2 separate regions of the Homo sapiens genome follow, and region 1 is linked to region 2. The links come from fine-mapping of genetic effects on gene expression. A gene starts in region 2. The other region holds a variant in brackets. All regions are shown on one strand. Distances are from middle to middle.

Region 1 (2,901 bases), 67 kb before region 2:
AGAGCCAAGGAAATGAAGCGGAGATGTTGAGTGGCTCCCGCCTTGCCTGGCCTTACCTGTGCGCAGCCAGTTAGCAGCCGCAGCCACAAGCACAGCTCGGGTTCTGATCCGCAAACAGATGAGGCTGCAGCCCTGGCTCCCTCTGGTAAATGAGGCTGCGGATGTCGCAGAGCTACGTGACTCCTCCGGGGGCGTGGCCTGCATGCCCCGCCCTGACCACACCCCCTCCCCAGGACTGGTGTCCGGGGCAAGACCACGCCCTCAGAGGCGGGGCGGCGAGGTGGAGTGAGCGCCCCGCCAGGCATCCGTGGCTGTTAGGGACTGCCCTCCCACCTCGGGGAGCCTGGCCATGACCTTGCGTTCATTTCTGCCACAATCCCTTTACCACGTGCCGGGCACTTGCTGGATGCTGGGGATTAAGCTTAGTCTGGTGAAGAGGAGGCACCAGAACAGTAACAACAGGTTGAGTAGGTGGGGCAGAAGCATCTTCAAGGTGCCCAAGTTCAGGGCAGGAAGTAATGAACTGAGCTTCTCTGTCCTCACCCCCATATTTGCCAGGGTATACCCCCGAGGGGGCTGGGGAAAGTAAGAGAATGAAGCCTTTCTGTTTCCTCCAGGCGGTGAGCCAGGGAACAAGCAGTCCAGTGCCCAGAGTTTTGGTGAAAGCAGAGGAAGGGAGGAAGGGCAGGCAGCCTTGGCTTTGGATGCAGCAGGAGGTGGAGAGGGATCTATGGAGGGTGCCCAGGCAGGAGGCCCAAGCTGCTTCTTCCCTGACTTCATCATCCGCCCCCTCTCACCCAAAAAGTAAGATTCCGTAAGCTTGGAGAAATTCATTAAATACACTTTATTTAAATAGCATTTATCTCAGTTGGCTCTATGCCAGTTGGTCTTGGTATTGGGGTAAGGGGGTATTGCAGGTAAAAAGAGGTGAAGCAGATTCTGGCTTTCAGTTTCTTAGCTCAGAAATTCCAGCAATCCCTGTAGTTCTTTGCATCCCCTCACCACCTCTGGAATAGAGAGCAGGGTCTGGGAAGAGAGGCAGAAAACGCAGCTCAGGACCACAGACTTAAGGCCCAGGGCTCCCAGCCCCAGGAGGCAGCCGCTGAATTAGAGGGGAGAAAACAGACACCACAGAGAAGCCTGCAATAGTGATTCAGGCCCAGCTCTCAGCACAGGCTGGGAACCAGATCTGTGCTCATTAGTACCTCCTGGGGCCAGGCCTTGTACCAGGTTCATTAGTGATATCACCTCCCTCCTGCCTATACCTTATAAATATGCTGAACAATGTCATCTAGTTTTTCTAACTCCTTGTCAGAGCGCCGAAGGTTCTCCTCTAGGATATTTCTCTAGAAAGCAAACAGATTTTATAAGTCCTATGCATAAAAGAGCAAACTTGGTAGGACAGGGGAAACATGGCGGGGCATTTGTTAACGATGGTAGGAAATGGCCCTGGAATGGCATGGACATTCTTACATGGCTCTGGAACTTGATCATGAGTTTTTCCTTCTCATTTTTCATCTCCAGGAACATCACTCTCAGTTTGTCCACCTAGAAATATGTCCAGATCAACAGGG[G/T]TACAGCCTGGGGTCCCCACCTGCTGTCCAGCTCCTCTGTTAACTCTGAGTCACCTCCTGAGAGAGCCACACTTTCTCCTGGATCCAATTGGTGGCCATAGGCTGGCAGTTGGAGTCCAGCTGGCCTGCCAGGGCCTCCTGGAGCACTTTGGTCTCTGTCTCCGCACGCCGAAGTGAGCGGGTAAGGTGGGTCACCTCCTCTCTAAGGCTCTGGGAATGAGAATGGAGAGGTGTCCAATAGGACATAAGGATAGACAACATGTGGTGAACAAAAGCAAACCATTTCTCATACTTGGGATCCTGGCTGACCAGTAACACAGAAGGCAAAGGCCTGGGCATGATGGTGAACATACTATGAGCTCGCCACTCTTGTCTATCTGTTCTAGGATCTTCTCATTCTGCTGCTGTATCACTTCCTGGAGCTCCTTTTCATTCTGTGAGGGAAAGGGAGGTGAGAAGACACATGAAGAGCTGGTCTCTTCACAGCCCTTGCCAGGAGGTAGGAGAGAGTGCCTGACCCATGCTTAGCCCACATGGGACCAATTGATATCACGCCAATTCTTTCCCCAGGGCCAAGCCAGGCAAGGCACATTTCAGTGTTGGGAGAGCTCTGCTAGAGTTCCTGACTTCTCTCCTGAGTCAGCCTGGGAAGACAGGTCAGCCCATAGCTGACATGTGAAATGTCTGACCCCAGGAAGGGCAAAACTAGGGCAGTGGTTGGAAAATCCCCACCACCCAGATTCCTGGAGAGATAATGGCTCCCAGTGGGCCAGTAGAGCTGCCCCAGTTCTTCATCGCCCCACTTCTAGGTCCCTCCTTCACCTTGTAGCGCAAGCACAAGGCCTGGTTCAGCTTCTCTATGTCTGCTTCTTTTGCCTTCTGGACTTCCTGATGCTGTTCTTCCTGGGCCTGCAGCCTAGCTTGCAGCTCACAACTGAAGGAAGGAAGAATTTAGCAACATTCCTGTCCTCTCAGGGATCAGTTGGACCCTTGGCATAAGAGGATGTCTCACTGTCCCTCTGTCACCAAAACTGCATCCCACTCACATTTTTCGCTGCAGAGTCCTGATGGCTTCTTCTTTAGACTCTTGTAGCAGGGAACAAAGACTCTGAAGCTCAGTAGTCATAATACTCATTTCTGCCAGGCTCTCCTCCATGCCTGGGGTCTCTGAAAGAGAAAGTCCCAGATAGAGGTCTAGCCTTCCAGCCCTGGAAGGAAGGAGTGTATAGCCATCATTTCCACAACTCTTATCCGTGTTCCCCACCCACAGGATTTGAATGTCTGGAACATTACAGATCCCAGAAGGCAGAAATAAAATGAGCCCAAG
Region 2 (2,901 bases):
CCCATCTTAAATTAGAACAGTAAAATCTTCGATTTCCTGTTATCTTTCTTCTGTATCTTTGTTATGTGCCCTGGACACTCTGTGTCCTACAAACATTTTTAACTGAACAACTTGCAGCGTTCTCCAACTAGCTCTAAGATCATCTTGGCAAAGAAATGGCAAGGCTGGGATTAACTAGAAAAGCCACCAGGATTTCTATTTTTAAAAAAAGGAAATTAAGAGTTTAAATTCAATTGGATCAACCCTACACACATATCCAGAGTTTCCCAGAACTCACCACTGTTTGCTGGTGTTGCTGAAACTTAAGACTGACATTCTGGATCCAAAAAAAGCGGAAGGAGCCAATCTTTAGCTCCGCCTGCAGCTTCCGCTGACACCACTTGGTGGCCAACCGGACCACAAGCCACCTGCAGAAAAATTCCTGTTAATTCATAGGACCTTTTTCCAATGATGGTTTCCCTCACCCCTTGCTGGTCTTTCAAAGCCTTGCAAAAGGTCGTTCCTGAAACTGGATCTGAGCAACTCTCCTTTCTTCCAAAGCACCACTCTGTCATATACATTCAGCCACGCTGATCAAGATCCTAGCTCCCGACTGACCCCTCCACCCAGATGAAACCAGAAACTGCACCCTCTAAGTTGAAGACAAAAACAAAATCCCTCAAATTGTTATGAATCCCAGAGGCAGAGAGAGAAGACCCCAGCAAGAGTCAAAGCGGAGGCGGCTCTGTCACATGTGCCATCACACTCCCCAGAGGGTCTGTCTGTCTCCTGCTCCCACCCTCCAGACAGGTATCCACGAGAAGGCACTTTGAGGTCAGACCCGGCAGCTCGAATGCTGTTCTCCCCAGACCGATGCTGCAGGTGCCCATCGCGCTTGGCGAAAGGGACATGCAGGGGTGGGTGGAGGGGGAAAGGGAAGCCACTGAACCAGGCCCCTTCCTCACACTCCTATTCAGTTCCTGGCCTCAGCATTTCCTCAGACCCCGCCCGCTTCCTCAGTCTCCCCAACTCGCAGCCCATCCCTGGGAGCTCGGGCCACGCGCCTCCTCACGATCCCTCCCCTCGCCGCGCGCCCCCTCCCTCCACCCTACCCACTCTGCCTCACGCGCCTCAGTAAGGCGCGCGCCCCCTCCTCAGTCTTTCTTCCTCCTCTCCGCCCCCTCCCTCCCGCCGCCGCCGCCGCCGCCGGCGCGGCCGGGAACCCTCACCGGCCTAGAAAGAGGGCGCTAAGCGCAACTAGCAGCAAGACCAACAGCGCGGAGAAGAACAGAGGCATTTAGGTCCGGGTCCGGCCCGGCTTGGCCCCGGCCCCCGCCATGCCGGGCCCCGACGCCGGATCCGCGCAGCACCGCCGCGGGCCGACCAGCTGCGCGCGCAGGAGCAACGCTGAGCGAGGACGCGCTGGTGCGCACACGAGCCCCGCCTTCCGCAGCCCGCCAGCCAACCAACGGCCTCCCACCCCAGTCCCGCCCTGTCCTACGACGCTGCAGGGCCGACGGGCTGCGTGCGCGAGGAGCGGGCGTGGTTCCGGGAGGAGGGCGAGGGGGAGCGGACCAAGAGCTGAAACACGCCCCGGGCGCACACCACGGTGCCCGGAACCGCGGGGCTCGGGGACCCGCGGGGGTCGGAGTCCGGGCCCACTACCTGGGCTGGCGGTGGACCTGGCTGACTCATTTCGGTCCGGGGAGCTCACTTTGAGGGGAGTTGGAGTCCGCCTAGCCACTTAGGCCTGGACTCAGGGTTCTGCGGAAGTTACACCCCTGGTCAGACGTGGTAGCACTCCCATCTTATTCAAGATCCTGTTTGAAAATTACTGAGGCAGAAACTAGGAGGTAATTAAAAGGCCTCAAAAATCTCGCCTCATTCCATCCACAGAGGAAACTAATGAGGTTTTGTTTTTTTTTTCTTTGAGACAAGGACTCGCTACGTTGCCCAGTCTGGTCTCGAACTCCTGCAGGCTCAAGGGATCCTCCTGCCTCAGCCTCCTGAGTAGCTTGGACTAAAGACGCGTGTCACGGTTCCTGGCCAATGAGTTTTTACTTCATTTACTGTTTGAACACTGTTCTGGTCCATCTACTTATGGCACGAACTGGGCCCTGATGGAGGAGAGGAGGAGATACTGCAGAAGTAGTGAATATTGTTCTTGCCCTTTAGCAAAAAATAGTTTATCTGGGAAGCAAACATAATTACATAAAGTAGACAATACATAGTCAGTTTTGCCTGCTTCCTTCTGTGTAGTTTATCTGGGAAGCAAACATAATTACATAAAATAGACAATACATAGTTTTGCCTGCTTCCTTCTCTGTAAAATGAGAGAACAGGACAAAGGTCCCTCAGCGTTACTGTGCTAAGGATCAGTATCTGAATGATGATCTACTGATACAGCACAAGCTAAGGAAATCCTGACGGTTTCAAAATAAGTATTATGGAGGAGGTCATGTCTCTTTTCATACCCCTTCGCTCCCACGTCCTAATCTCCATATATATCCTTCAAGATTTTACTCAGAGCCTCTCTTTTTGGCTCCCTCAGATAAAACACCATTTCATCTTTCACCTGTGTGTTGCCCGAAGTTGCTTTCACTCCTCTGATTGTTTCCTCCCTTATCTATTCCTCTCTTCAGTGATTTCACATCTCCCCAAGAGCTCCAGCGCTGCTGTTTCAAGGTCATACTTACCTCTCAAGCACTGTATTTGCGTCATCTTCCTCGTCATCTGCAGCCTTCCCCCAGGGTATGTCCTCCGAATGCTCTGGGAAGGCCCAATTCACTGAAAACCTCTGTCCAAGTCAAGGAGGGGTGCCGTGCAACACGTATCCCTACTCTGGTTCATCTTATCCAATCTGTTTATTGAACCAAGATTCCTGTCACTTCCTTCCTTCTCCCTTGACTATTACCGGCCCTA

What was found.
Region 1: its variant is fine-mapped to the expression of BLTP2 in whole blood (TOPMed, PIP above 0.99).

Annotation. Positions count from the first base shown.
Region 1 is chr17:28,576,745-28,579,645 of GRCh38, forward strand. It overlaps ALDOC (aldolase, fructose-bisphosphate C), which reads right to left and starts at 151. Exons shown (of 9, transcript NM_005165.3): 1 at 57-151. It overlaps SPAG5 (sperm associated antigen 5), which reads right to left. Exons shown (of 24, transcript NM_006461.4): 18 at 2,621-2,741; 19 at 2,397-2,508; 20 at 1,928-2,008; 21 at 1,629-1,784; 22 at 1,474-1,548; 23 at 1,266-1,346; 24 at 830-1,026. The coding sequence ends at 955. RefSeq lists a silencer at 84-323 and an enhancer at 374-553. The variant G/T (reference allele first, on the strand shown) is at 1,575.
Region 2 is chr17:28,643,781-28,646,681 of GRCh38, forward strand. BLTP2 (bridge-like lipid transfer protein family member 2) reads right to left here and starts at 1,378. Exons shown (of 39, transcript NM_014680.5): 1 at 1,209-1,378; 2 at 278-407. The coding sequence starts at 1,276. RefSeq lists silencers at 1,175-1,514, 1,535-1,764.